4 linked regions of the Homo sapiens genome follow. The main gene of each other region encodes a partner of the protein of the gene in region 2 in a complex. Each region holds a gene or a part of one and is shown on either strand. Other genes may lie near its edges.

Region 1 (3,500 bases), on a different chromosome or scaffold from region 2:
AGGCTCCGAGGCAGCGCTGCAAGGGCAACCCCAAGAAGGAGGGATGCCACGTGTGGCTGTCTTCCCGCCCCAGGTACGTCCACTGGAGAGGGGAGACCCACCTCGGCCAGCGCCGCCCATGCCGCGGCCTTTCTGCTGCTTCTGCTGCTGCAGGCCTCCGCGGCCGCGGCCCTTGGCCACCACCTCCTCCTTGACCATGTCGATGATCTCGTCGGGGATGCGCAGGTACTTGATGGTGCTGCCGCGGATGTAGCACTCGGGCATCCGCCAGAACTTGTCCCCGTCCTGCGGAGAAGGGGAGCAGGTTATTAACTTACCACCGGGCCGTCTGGCCCAGCCCTGGGAGCGCGGGAGGCCCTGCAGATCCTGCCCAGCCTGCACCCCGTACCACCCCTGCAAGCTGCACAGTATCAGTCCCGGGACATACGTGGCAAAGGGTCCACCCTGCAGGCAGGATCTGTCCTGACCCCAGGCAATCCTTCACCCAGGAGCAAGGGTGGGTGTGGTAGGCGCAGCCCCCATTGTGCACTCACAAGGAAGACTGGCTCCTATCCTCTGCCCGTGGGCCTGGCTCAGGAGTGGCTGACTGGGGCTCCCTCCAGCCTGGGATGGGGCTCTCTCTGGTTGGGGTTCTTCACCTGCAGCCCAAAGCCCAGAGCGGGTGGGGGCCTCCCTGTGCACCAGACACAGCCGAAGCCCAGCTACTCCTCCTCCTGCCCCAGCCCCACCTCACTTCTGGAAGCCTCTCTACATGCCCTGACTCATTCATTCATCTAAGTATCTCCTGACAGGGCCTGCGCTGGGTGCAGGGACATGCGAGCAAGCTACAGGCCTAGTGTGGTGGGTGAAGAGGGGCGGGAAATGGGGGGACTTGGGTCCTGCCAGGGTGGCTCAAGGGCGGCTCCCAGCGATGCCAGTTTTAGGAGAGCTAACCAAGACTGGAGAAATGGGGGCCTTGCAAAGACACAGACTCATGCTGCAATGCCTCCGAGGCCCCCACTGGGACAGATCGAGGGATTAGCAGGGGCCAGGGCCATTCCTACCATATCAGTTTCCCAGCCCCGCCCCACCGCCCAGGTTCCTGGACAGACCCACGCACGACGCCTGGATGGCCTTTGCCCCCGATGCCCTTTAAAGTCAGATCACAGTATGTTCCAGCTTGGAACCCACCCAGGGCCCCCTCCAGCCTGGGGGCAAGGTCTAAGAACCTCAGCAGGGCTCTCTAGGGCCCGAGATCCTGCCCCGCCCTGGCGGTCCTCTCCCAGCCCGACGACACTCCCTCCAGATGGAACTTTCTGTTTCCGGAACACACGCCATGGGCTTGCCCCCAGAACTTTGCACGTGGTTTTCCCACTTCTCATCTGGCTAACTTTGACCCCAAAAGGCCTTACCTGCCCGAATCCCCAAGTCCTCCTGTCAGACACTCTCCTCCACACCTGGGTAGGTGTGGCCTGGCCTAGCGCTGGGCGGGGAGGAACAGCCCCTTTGGGTGCTCACTCTCCCAGGAACCCCTCGAGGGCTCGTGGGGCGGACACACCATGGTTCTGTGGGGACTCAGGGCCTGGGCAGGTGACTTGGCGCCCAGCTCTCCCAGGCAGGGCCCAGAGGCTTCCTCGTGCAGGAACCTGGGCAGGGCCTGAGCTCACTGCAGGGAGGCCCCTGCCTCCTGCCCACAGCGCTCCAGAGGTCTCTCAGCCCGGGGTCTCTGCATCCTGCGGCCTGCCTCTGAGGGAGGGAGGGCCCCACTTAGATGGGGACGATGTGAGTTCCCATCGCCTCTCCTCCCAGCCACATGTGACGGCAGCATCACCGCCTGGCCACAGAGGCAGGCTGCTCAGGGAAAGCCATCCGTCCACTCGAAGCTGGAGGCAGAGGCCAAACCAACCCCTGGAGACCACGCAGCCTCTGAATCAACAGGCTTCTCATGTCTAGGACCTGGAGGTGTCCACAAGACCGCACATGCTCACGCACGCAACACGCCTGGTGATTCCAATACCGGAAGTGGACAGAGCCCCGCTGGCCGCAGATGGGAGGCACGCGGTTCTGCACCAAGGCACCATCCGACACAGCCAGACTGGACCCACCCAGACGCCCTCCGACAGGCTATGGCACGAAACCCAGCAAGCAGTTTCTAGAGCTTCTAGCGCTGCTGCACAGCAGCCTCACCACCTGTCCCCACCCCGCCCAGCCCTGTGCTGATGAGAGGCCCAGTCCCGGGTGGGGGTGGCGGTCAGGGCAAGATACGGCCACTTCAGGAAGAAGCGCCTCCCCCCTCGAGCCCTGTTGTCCTGTCAAGGTGACCCCAGGCAGGCACTCCAAGCTCCCCAGCAGTTTCCTCCCTATACCATGGGGGGCTGTCACCCACAGGGAGACAAGACAGATGGGGTCAGGGAAGGTTGGTGGGAGGAGTCCAAGGGAGCCGCTGCCTTCAGCACCATCCCTGGCCTCCTCCTCAGTGCTCTGTGGGTCATCCCAGGGGCAGGGAAGGCCCGTGACACCAGGGGAACCATCTTCCAGCCCCGGCCGACCCAGCAGCACTCCTAGCCAGGCACTTCCGGTCTTGGGCTCTGGCTGGTGGCTCCTGACCCACCGGGCCCTGGCGCTGCTCCTGCCCACCGTGACCTGGGCATCCCGGACATCCCAGGGCCACACTACCATGGCCCGCAGAGTGCAGGCAACATCCAGGCTGGACTAAAGGCAGCAGAGTCCGGGAGTCTTGGGCCTCCCCTGGAGGGGGCTGCCCCAGCCTGAGCCACAGGGAGTCCCCAGTCCTAGGTCCTTCCAGGTCAGGGGTGGCACCAACAGACACACAGCAGGAAAGTCTCCCACAGGGTCAAAGTCCAGGGCACACTGGGAGACTTGGTGGCCTAGCTCACCCTGCCCTGTCCCTCCTGACTGACCCCTGGAAGGACGAGCAGTCCTAGGCGGCCTCCCCCACTGACTCCTCCCATGAGGCCCAGGGAGGGAGGGAGGAGGCTGAGTGTGCACCCCCTGCATCCCACCCCCGTTGGTGGGTGCAGCACCCACCCTGGACGTGCAGATGACTTCTCGCAGGTTAATGTTCATCCAGTTGTCGCAGCTCACCAGGTGTCCATTGTACGTCTCCCCATTTTTCAGCTCCACCAACTAGAAGAGAGACAGGCTAGAGGTTGGCTGTAGCCCTGGAGCCCTGCGCCATGGGCCCCTCAGGAGGTGTAGCTCTGCCCTGAGATGGACCACCACCTCCGGGCCTCAGCCCACAGTTCCCAGACCCCTAAATGGCCTTCCTTACAGGCGACAGGCTCTGCCTCCGCTAGACACTTCGCTGGCAGTTAGACAGTCTATCATGACGCCAACCTTTGTGCAATTAAAAAATGATACTGGGCCGGGCGCGGTGGCTCACGCCTGTAATCCCAGCACTTTGGGAGGCCGAGGCAGGCAGATCACGAGGTCAAAAGATTGAGACCATCCTGACCAACATGGTGAAACCCCATCTCTACTAAAATCATAAAAATTAGCTG
Region 2 (3,500 bases):
ACAGAGCGAGACTCCATCTCCAAAAAAAAAAAAAAAAGGAGATATGAGTCCTGAGTCCATGTGAGCTCTAGTCAGCCAACCTGCCTTCCTGCTACTAAAGGCTGACTTCTCATTTTATTTTCTCTTCAGCCTGAACAAAAGCTGACTAGACTTGTCTGAATGAGTATCAGTGAAGAAGTCTTTTTTTTTTTTGAGACAGAGTCTCGCTCTGTCGCCCAGACTGGAGTGCAATGGCGCTAGCTATCTCAATTCACTGCAAGCTCTGCTTCCTGGGTTCACGCCATTCTCCTGTCTCAGCCTCCCGAGTAGCTGGGACTACAGGCGCCCACCACCATGCCTGGCTAATTTTTTGAATTTTTAGTAGAGACGGGGTTTCACCGTGTTAGCCAGGATGGTCTCGATCTCCTGACCTCGTGATCCGCCCGCCTTGGCCTCCCAAAGGGCTGGGATTACAGGTGTGAGCCACCGTGCCTGGTTTGGAGAAGTCTTTATACTCAAGATTTCATGACTGAACCAAAACTGTCCATGCGGCAAAAGAGAAATACTACGTTTAATCATTTTGTGTTAGTAAATAGGAAAAGGAGCAAACTATTCATTTTTTTTTTTTTTTTAGTAGAGACAAGGTCTTGCTATGTTGTCCAGGCAGGTCTCAAACTCCTGAGCTCAAGCAATTCTCCCACCTCGGCCTCCCAAAGTGATGACATTACAGATGTGAGCCACTGCGCCCAGCCTAAAAGAGCAAACTATACTCATCTCCCAACCACAGCAACAGACCAGTTAAGAGAATGGCTAATTACCTGAAAGTGAAACTTTAAACCTGCCCTCAAAAATCTCTATCTCCAAATAAGCAGAGGGTGCCTAATCACCATAAGTCTGATAACTCTCCGACAAAAACAGGATGTGTTATGAATAAAACATAGGAGAAGACAGGTATGAAAAAGATCCTTTTCAAGAAGTATGGACAATGAAATGATCCAGAATTGTATTACTCGAAGTAATTACAGCACATAAAATAATTAAAGTGCAAGTTTCCAGAATTAGTCACAATTTGATGTTCTCTAAAAGACTGCGTAGTTAAGAAACAATCTTTTTCTCAACTTCTCCGAAGTAAGCTTTCTGAAGGACAAACTTTTATATTGGGCCTACTCTAGGCCCATAAAAGAAACCAATGGGGCAAGGAAATTTCTGTGGCAACTGAGCAGGAAGTACCATTGATACACAATCTTCCTCCCTCTGGAGTTGCCCTTGGAATCCAGACTGCCCCTACCTACCAGGAACAGACAGGTGACTGGCAATTCACAAGAGGCTAGTGCTGAAATAAAACTTTGACACACAGACTTTCGAAGAAAGCACCTCTGTCATCCTACTCAAGGAGGCAGAGAACAAACCTCCATGTCCCCCCATTTAATTCTAGTCACAAACAAGATGCTAGTGGAGAAAAGTGTAGAAAAAGAGAAAAAGAAATTCCCCTGTAATTCTCAACTGCAAATGTTCTCTCTCCTCACCCTCCATGATTCTAAGAGTCCTGGCAATACTATAATAAGATGTTACACCTGGACAAACCCCTAGGGCTCAGGCCCATCTACTCCAAGCCTCTCATTTTATCTATGAGAGAACATATCCAGAAAACACGCAAACTATGGGTCTGAGGTCCCACCACTAAGACAGCCTAAAACTCAGGCCTCTTAATTTTAGATACTACTTTCTTAAACACTACATGGAATTTAAAACTGACACTATTTTCTTTCTTTCTTTCTTTTTTTTTTTTTTTTTTTTTTAGCACAGTCACACTCTGTCACCCAGACCCAGGCTGGAGGGCAGTGACACCATCTCAGCTCACTGCAGCCTCAATCTCCAAGGTTCTAGCCATCCTCCTGCCTCAGCCCCTCAAGTACCTAGGACTGCAGGTGTGCACCACCACATCTGGCTAATTTTTTGTATTTTTTTGTAGAGATGGGGTTTTGCCATGTTGCCTAGGCTGGTCTTGAACTCCTGAGCTCAAGCGATCCAGCTGCCTTGGCCTCCCAAAGTGCTGGGATTACAGGCGTGAGCCACCACGCCCAGCCAAACATCTTCTTAAGTATGAAAAACCTTGTCTCTTGAGAACTGAAAACCAACAGTCTACCCCCAAAAAGGATCTTGCAGAAGTTTTCTGAGTTGGAAGGAAGCAAACTAAAAGCATCTAGTACAACTCTAGTGTGCAAAAAGGTGTGATGGCCAGCAAATAGATGGGCAGACCCTCACTACTCAGGACATCTTCCAAACCAGGCAGAATCCTACCTGTCTTATCCTACTTGCATCATTTCTTCTTCTCTACGCAGGAAGACTATAATTTCCAGCTAGCAACAGGAGAGAAGATAAAATAGGGATTGCATCCCAATAAACATCAATCTTTTGTGGTCCCTGAAATAAGTGTATCCTTCCAATAAAAACTCTTATCTACTGTAGGTAGGCTCTGTTCCTTGTAATCCCCAACTAAGACAGTCCAAAATTAATACTGGTAAAAATACAAGAGAAGAAATCCAGGTTCACTCCCCGTGAGAGAAGTGAGGCAGGATGTTACTTACGTAATAGGGAAATTGACAATAGTTGGATTCTTCTCAACAAAGAAGTTGTTCTTAGTGAATCTCTTGATACAAAAGATTAGATATGGAGGCAACTTGGTAAGCTGGAAGCGCTTCAGAAAGTTCTCCTTGTAAGTCTTATATTCCTAGAGAAAGAAAAGAAAATTCTCAAATTAGTGCTGAAGTTCAGTAGTATTAGAGCAGGGGCATGAGTTTTTCATTTCGATTTTTTAAAATATAATTTTGCCTCACACTTAAGTTCACAAGACTCCTGGTCCGAGAAATTATGTATGAGGCTTAGGATGTGCAGTTTGGCTAAGGCTGATTTAAAAAAAAAAAAAAAAAAAAAGGCCGGGCCTGGTGGCTCACACCTATAATCCTATCACTGTAGGAGGCCGAGGCAGGGGGATCATTTCAGCACAGGAGTTCGAGACCAGCCTTGACAACATGGTGAAACCCCATCTCTACTAAAAAGGAAAAAGAAAAAAAAAGAAAAAAAAAATATATATATATATATGTAAAGAAAGAAAACTAACCAGGCACGGTGGCTCATGCCTGTAATCCCAACACTTTGAGAGGCTGAGGCAGGCAGATCACTTGAGGCCAGGAGATCGAGACCAGCCTGGCCAACAGGGTGAAACCGCATCTCTACTAAAAATACAAACATTAGCTGGGCATGGTGGCATGTACCTGTAGTCCCAGCTACTCGGGAGGCTGAGGCAGAAGAATCGCTTGAACCCGGGAGGTGGAGGTTGCAGTGAGCTGAGATCACACCACTGCACTCCAGCCTAGGCAACAGAGTGAGACTCCATCTCAAAAAAAAAAAAAAAGTATGTCTCCCCACTTTTTGGAGTTTCTCCTCTCCTAAATGACCTTCCTTTCTCTATACTACCCCAGAGGCAGGCAGAAAGCTGAAAACAGGATATATGAGAAGTA
Region 3 (3,500 bases), on a different chromosome or scaffold from region 2:
AAATTTTAAATGATAATATTCAGTATCATTTAAAATCCCTATGGTAAGCAGGGAAATGCTGATACATTTTTAAAAACCAGCTCTCTGGAAAAAAAGCGGGAGACTGATTTGCTGCATTTACTAATATCCATTGTGCAAACACTCCCACCACGGCCAATTTCAAGCTACTAACAAGACATCAATTAACCAGCTTGTAAAATTCCTTAAAATATAACAATATGCTTTCATGGGCCAGTAGAAGCTGGCTCTAGCACAAGACTTTTTTCACTGAAGTTCAAGAAAAAAAAATTGTTTTAAGTAGGAGAAACCTTAAAATCAATTACTATGCACAGCTCCAATATAAACAGTGTTGTTCTGATCCAGAGACCTGGGCCCTATCTGCTCTGTCTCTCTCTCATTACTTACAGCTCACCTTGTAACTCCACCTAAAAGTCATCTCTAAAATATTTTATAAACTCTTGATTTTTGATTACAGATCAAATTATTTATTCATCTAAAGGTGATGCTAACATAAACAACTTAAATGAGTAAATTATTCCTGCACTTTTTAAGTTATTCCAGGGGACAGTTAGTCCCCTAGAATTTGTTAAATGTTCTAGCTTAAAATTGCTAATGTATCTTTTGCTTCTTTCCAACTATATTTTGATTCAGTGTAGTACTCACTAGAAAACTGATTTGGCATTCTTCTAGCCTCTATAACTATACTAATACTGGCCACATGTAACTATTAAAATTAATTACAATTAAATAAAATTTAAAATTCAGTTCCTCTGTCACATCAGCCACTTTTCTTTTTTTTTTCAAGATGGAGTTTCACTCTTTTTGCCCAGGCTGGAGTGCAAAGGCGCAACCTTGGCTCACTGCAACCTCCATCTACCAGGTTCAAGAAATTCTTCTGCCTCAGCCTCCCAAGTAGCTGGGATTACAGGCATGCACCACCACACCAGGCTAATTTTTCTATTTTAAGGAGAGACGGGGTTTCACTATGCTGGCCAGGCTGGTCTTGAACTCCTGGGCTCAGGTGATCCACCCACCTTGGCCTCTCAAAGTGCTGAGATTATAGGCATGAGCCACGGCACGTGAACCACATTAGCCACTTTTCTTTTTTATTTTTTGACACGGAGTTTTGCTCTTGTTGCCCAGGCTGGAATGCAGTGCTGCGATCTCGGCTCACTGCAACTTCCACCTCCCAGGCGAATTCTCCTGACTCAGCCTCCCGAGTAGCTGGGATTACAGGCTTGCGCCACCACGCCTGGCTAATTTTTATATTTTTAGTAAAGACGCGGTTTCACCACATTGGCCAAGTTGGTCTCGAACTCCTGACCTCAAGTGATCCACCCGCCTCCACCTCCCAAAGTGCTGGGATTACATGCTTGAACCACTGTGCCCGGCCTTTTTTTTTTTGAATTGGTGTCTCAATCTGTCACCCAGGCTGGAGTGCAGTAGGGTGATCTCGGCTCACTGCAACCTCTACCTCCTGGGTTCAAGTGATTCTCCCACCTCAGCCTCCCAAGTAGCTGGAACTACAGGCGCACGCCACCAAGCCTGGCTAATTTTTGTATTTTTAGTAGAGACAGTGTTTTGCCATGTTGGCGAGGCCGGTCTTGAACTCCTGACCTGATCCACTTGCCTCAGACTCCCAAAGTGCTGGGATTACAGGCACCATGCCTGGCCAATTACTCTTGAACTTTTATATCTGTCTGTCCCAAGTAAACTGAGGCCACAGGGACATCTTAAGTGTGTCAATGATACTAAAAAATTAAAAGAAAATGAATAACGAGTAAGTACTTATTTATAAATACACCTATGTTATTGAGCATGAATTAATATTGTTCAAATCAGAGATTTCAAAACATTTTTCAAACTTTGGCCTTGGACTCTAGAAATATGTTCCTCTAAAATTCTGGGTATTTGAAAGAACGTTTTAAGAAGTCTCTCTAATGAAGTATTTAATATAAGGCAGAGCCCTTTCTGGACTCTACCCAGGCTACTTAACTAGTAGAAAAATGGGCAAATCTCAGGTAAAAGTTTAATTTGTAGAGAGACAGCTTTGGTTGAAACCTAAAGAAGTGCTGACATAAAATGTATACATATGCCTTATTTTACACAAACATAAGAAAAGGTATATTTACGAAAGAAATGAATGCAAGATTCTATTAACTATGTATGGACAATACAGTAGGGTATTTTGGGGAAAGCCTCTTCTCCATAAAGTAAGGCAGTATCATTTATAATTTTAACAGATATATTTTACTTACACGTTGTCACCTCTTACAATGTATAATCCTAGTACCACTTGTTCTACCCCCTGTGAAGAGCTGAATACTCGTTCATGGCTTTCATCCAAAATCAAATTAATGGTCTGGTCAAAACCTTTCAGTGTTCCCTGTAAAGAAAATATTCAGGAGAAAAAGAGAAATATTCTGGTTTACCTGAAAGTGTAAATTTAACCTCACAGTCATTTTAGTTGCCAGGTATTCCAATACAAGTACCTATACGACGGCAAATAAAATGCCTTTTTTATAACCAACAGTATTCGAGGGTACACAATTTACCTCTTGGTTATTTGGCTGGGGTGGGGGGACCTGCACCACACATCTCACTCATATGTAGAGTTGACAGCAGTTGCAAAGGACACCTATGTACTAATGTGACTATCTCCAAGTAAGTAGCATAAAAGCTTATGTAGACCAGCAGCTAAAGGTATAAACTAAGACAAAGGATATTTAAGGGAAAATGATAGCCAAATATACATAAATAAGGAAGAACCATACATACCAACTACAGCAATGTAATAGTATCACTATATGCTATATGCCAGCACTAGGCAGTGTGCTAAACACACTGTACACATTTTCTCAACTCATCTCTACCCTTTGATTTAGTACTATAATTAGCCCCATTTCAAAGAAGAAACTGAGGCACAGAATGGTGTGTCTTATGATCACATGGGTAGTAAGTGGCAGAGCCAGGAGATGAACCACAAAAGGCTAGCTCCTGAGCCAGACCACTAAACCATAACATTCTATACTATTATACACAAGTAAATATAATTTGCCATTTTTCAGATTCAAATCAGTCCCATAAATATACTAAAAATTTAACTAGTAGTTACATGTAACACCTAATGAGTACATACTAGTTACCAGTGTTCTGTGTGTCTCACATGTATTGTTTAATGTGTATCATATGGATTTATTGTTTAATTCTCCCAGTAAGGTAGATACAAATGTGACTATACTAATTAAAACCAGAACTTGAAGGAAATAATCAGGGAGAGTTTTATGAAAGCTTAGTATTGAATAAAAGAAGACATGGGTCTAGCATAACAGAGTAACTCACATGGTATTCAAGTTTCTGAAGAAATATCAACTAACATTGGTTTTGATGGTTAAACCTCTCAAGTTCTTAAACTGTTTTATCTTCTGAAAGTCAAAATATATAAAATGAGAATGAAATAAAAAAGAGAATGAAATAAAATGAGAATGAAATCTGTAACT
Region 4 (3,500 bases), on a different chromosome or scaffold from region 2:
TGTGTTGGACTGGTTCTATGACCACCAGCCGTTGAGGGACAGCAGGAAGTGAGTGATAGATGGAGATACTACACCTGGGAGGAGTTCTGGAAATGCAGAAGGAGTCCTGGGAGATCAGTAGGTGGTATGGGTTTGTCTAGCTGCTTACTTGAGGTGGGCCTTTCATTTTTTACCTAGGTATGTAAATGGCTCCACTTACCAGCGCTGGCAGTTCACACTACCTATGATGTCGACTCTCTACCGCCTGGCTAATCAGCTCCTGACAGACTTGGTGGATGACAACTACTTCTACCTGTTTGATTTGAAGGCCTTCTTTACGTCCAAGGCACTCAATATGGCCATTCCTGGAGGCCCCAAATTTGAACCTCTTGTTCGAGACATCAACCTACAGTGAGTTGGAGAGATTAGGGATTTTAGACATTTTGAGTTGAATGAAACGTAATCTTGATCCTTAAAGTCCTGATATAACTTCCAAATTAGTCTGTTTACACCAGGTGCAGTGGCTCACGCTGTAATCTCAGCACTTTGGGAAGCTGAGGCAGGAGGATTGCTTGAGCCCAGAAGTTTGAGACCAATCTGGGCAAAATGGCAAAACCCTATCTTTACCAAAAAATGTAGCTGGGCGTGGTGACACTCACAGCTTCGTGTAGTCTCAGTTACTTGGGAAGCTGAGCTGTGGGAGGATTGTTTGAGCCCAGGAGGTCACGGCTGCAGTGAACGATGATCATGCCATTGCATTCCAGCTTGGGTGATAAGAGTGAGACCCTGTCTCAAAAAAAAAAAAGTCTGCTTATTCTTGATGTTGTACCCTAGGGATGAAGACTGGAATGAATTCAATGATATTAACAAGATTATCATCCGGCAGCCTATCCGCACTGAGTACAAGATTGCTTTTCCTTACTTGTACAACAATCTTCCACACCATGTCCACCTCACCTGGTAAGAGACCTGGAACACAACATTTGGAAAGGAGAAGGCTGCTGTTTAGGTTGGGCCAGGGCGGGAAAACTTTGGCTGACTCTTCCTTTCATTTTAGGTACCATACTCCCAATGTTGTATTCATCAAAACTGAGGATCCTGACTTGCCAGCTTTCTACTTTGACCCTTTGATCAACCCAATCTCCCATAGGCACTCAGTCAAGGTGAGGAAGGGAAGGGATGCTTTCCCTCAGCTCTTCTAGGAGAAATGCGTGAGGTTGGCTGATGTTACTAAACGCTCAGGTGGAGGGAGATGTGTTTTCCGTCTTGCTAAGTGTTCCCCTTGAGCTATAAGCGAATATGAGAATTCAGCATTTGCTTTAAAACATGTCATTGGTATAATCCTGTTTTCTGTGATTATCCTTTTGGACTTTACGGTTCTTTTCTTGGGTGCTCTAGATAATCTGTCCCGGTCTGTCTCTATTGTGTTTGTTTGTTTTAGCCTTTATATTGAGATGTAGTTAACATACCATACAAGTTATCCATTTAAAGTGTGTAATTTGATGGTTTTTAGCTTATTCTCAGAGTTGTCCCAACTGTCACGACATGCAATTTGAGAATATTTTTATTACTTGAGAAAGAAACCCTTAGCAGTTACTCGCCATTTCTCCCCAACTTCCTTACGCAACCACTAATCTACTTTCTGTCTATAGATTTGGCTATTCTACACATTTCATATGATAGAATGAAATAGAATCGTACACTATGTAGTCTTCAGTGACTGGCTTCTTAAGCTTACCATAATGTTTTTGATGCTCATCTGTGTTCCGTTGTGTCCAAGCCCAGTGTTTGGAGCTTGGGTGGGAGATGATTGCAATGTTGACCTCCTGTGATGTTGGGGCTCCATTGGGAGGCTTTCTGGTGGTCAGCCAGTTGAGGTGTGAGAAGTGACGCTTGCTTTCCTGGTGGCCCTGTCTTGTTCTTTGCTGTCTTGGTTTCCTTTGTGCTGGCACTTCAGGGCTGCTTTTGTCAGACAGCCCAGTTTCCATAGCAGATACAGGCTTTGTGCTTGGCCCCAGAGAATTTCCCTCATCTTAAGTCTGTGCCTAGTTCAGCAGGAGCTAAACCCTTAGAGGGATTCCTTTTTCAGAGCCAGGAACCATTGCCGGATGATGATGAGGAATTTGAGCTCCCGGAGTTTGTGGAGCCCTTCCTGAAGGACACACCCCTCTATACAGACAATACAGCCAATGGCATTGCCCTGCTCTGGGCCCCGCGGCCCTTCAACCTACGCTCTGGTCGCACCCGTCGGGCCCTGGACATACCCCTTGTCAAGAACTGGTAAGGTTTTTCCCTGTGGCAGGGGGAATGATAGTGGATGTGTAGGAGAAAAGACTCCAACTAGGTGGGCATGTAGCCTTTTTTTTAAATTCTTTTTTTTTTTTTCCCATAAAAATGGTAGACAACCCAAGGCTTGCAGCCTTTAGCAGAGTGTCTGGAAGAAGAGATGGCCAAACTCTGGTGGGCTTATTTTTCCAGGTATCGGGAGCATTGTCCTGCCGGGCAGCCTGTGAAAGTGAGGGTCTCCTACCAGAAGCTGCTTAAGTACTATGTGCTGAATGCCCTGAAGCATCGGCCCCCTAAGGCTCAAAAGAAGAGGTAAGGTGCCCCAGGGGCCCTGCGCAGACTTCTGTTCCAGAGATATCAGTAGGCTGACTCTTACTCTCCATGTTCCCACCTCAGGTATTTGTTCCGCTCCTTCAAAGCCACCAAATTCTTTCAGTCCACAAAGCTGGACTGGGTGGAGGTTGGGCTCCAGGTTTGCCGCCAGGGCTACAACATGCTCAACCTTCTCATTCACCGCAAAAACCTCAACTACCTGCACCTGGACTACAACTTCAACCTCAAGCCTGTGAAAACGCTCACCACCAAGGTGCCTGCATTGGACCCTAGGGGCCTCCTGGGCTTCAAGGACGGACAGTTGTTTTCCTCTGGTTACTGATGAAGGCATACATCAGTTGGGTCCATTGCTCATTCACGTTCTGTCTGTTTTTTGCATCTTCTCCAGGAAAGAAAGAAATCTCGTTTTGGGAATGCTTTCCACCTGTGTCGGGAAGTTCTGCGTTTGACTAAGCTGGTGGTGGATAGTCACGTGCAGTATCGGCTGGGCAATGTGGATGCCTTCCAGGTAAGGTTAGGTATTCCCAACCCCTGCCTGGGTGAGGACGCTGGAGGAAGCCTGTGCTGACCGTGGAGCTGGTTTAAGCTCCAGGTCTGATGGGGCAATTGTATTGCAGCTGGCAGATGGATTGCAGTATATATTTGCCCATGTTGGGCAGTTGACGGGCATGTATCGATACAAATACAAGCTGATGCGACAGATTCGCATGTGCAAGGACCTGAAGCATCTCATCTATTATCGTTTCAACACGGTGAGACCTTGACTTTACTGACTTTCTTTTTTTTGAGACAGAGTCTTACTCTTGTCTCTTGGGCTGGTGTGCAATGGCACGATCTTGGCTCACTGCAACCTCCGCCTCCTGAGTTCAAGCAATTCTCCTGCCTCAGCCTCCCGAGTAGCT

Evidence for each region. Proteins that work in one complex are often made in the same cells at the same time.
Region 1: USP39 (region 2) and LSM4 share a complex: the UniProt entries of both Homo sapiens proteins name them as parts of the U4/U6-U5 tri-snRNP complex.
Region 3: USP39 (region 2) and LSM8 share a complex: the UniProt entries of both Homo sapiens proteins name them as parts of the U4/U6-U5 tri-snRNP complex.
Region 4: USP39 (region 2) and PRPF8 share a complex: the UniProt entries of both Homo sapiens proteins name them as parts of the U4/U6-U5 tri-snRNP complex.

The regions. Positions count from the first base shown.
Region 1 is NC_000019.10:18,309,577-18,313,076, forward strand, and holds part of LSM4 (U6 snRNA-associated Sm-like protein LSm4), read right to left. Parts: intron 3,127-3,500; coding exon 3,028-3,126; intron 286-3,027; coding exon 102-285; intron 1-101. UniProt on the Homo sapiens protein: Plays a role in pre-mRNA splicing as component of the U4/U6-U5 tri-snRNP complex that is involved in spliceosome assembly, and as component of the precatalytic spliceosome (spliceosome B complex).
Region 2 is NC_000002.12:85,640,186-85,643,685, reverse strand, and holds part of USP39 (ubiquitin carboxyl-terminal hydrolase 39), read right to left. Parts: intron 2,711-3,500; coding exon 2,568-2,710; intron 1-2,567.
Region 3 is NC_000007.14:118,187,164-118,190,663, reverse strand, and holds part of LSM8 (LSM8 homolog, U6 small nuclear RNA associated), read right to left. Parts: intron 2,387-3,500; coding exon 2,259-2,386; intron 1-2,258. UniProt on the Homo sapiens protein: Plays a role in pre-mRNA splicing as component of the U4/U6-U5 tri-snRNP complex that is involved in spliceosome assembly, and as component of the precatalytic spliceosome (spliceosome B complex).
Region 4 is NC_000017.11:1,678,368-1,681,867, reverse strand, and holds part of PRPF8 (pre-mRNA-processing-splicing factor 8), read left to right. Parts: coding exon 1-48; intron 49-177; coding exon 178-390; intron 391-813; coding exon 814-939; intron 940-1,036; coding exon 1,037-1,142; intron 1,143-2,068; coding exon 2,069-2,259; intron 2,260-2,457; coding exon 2,458-2,577; intron 2,578-2,661; coding exon 2,662-2,851; intron 2,852-2,986; coding exon 2,987-3,106; intron 3,107-3,215; coding exon 3,216-3,350; intron 3,351-3,500. UniProt on the Homo sapiens protein: Plays a role in pre-mRNA splicing as core component of precatalytic, catalytic and postcatalytic spliceosomal complexes, both of the predominant U2-type spliceosome and the minor U12-type spliceosome.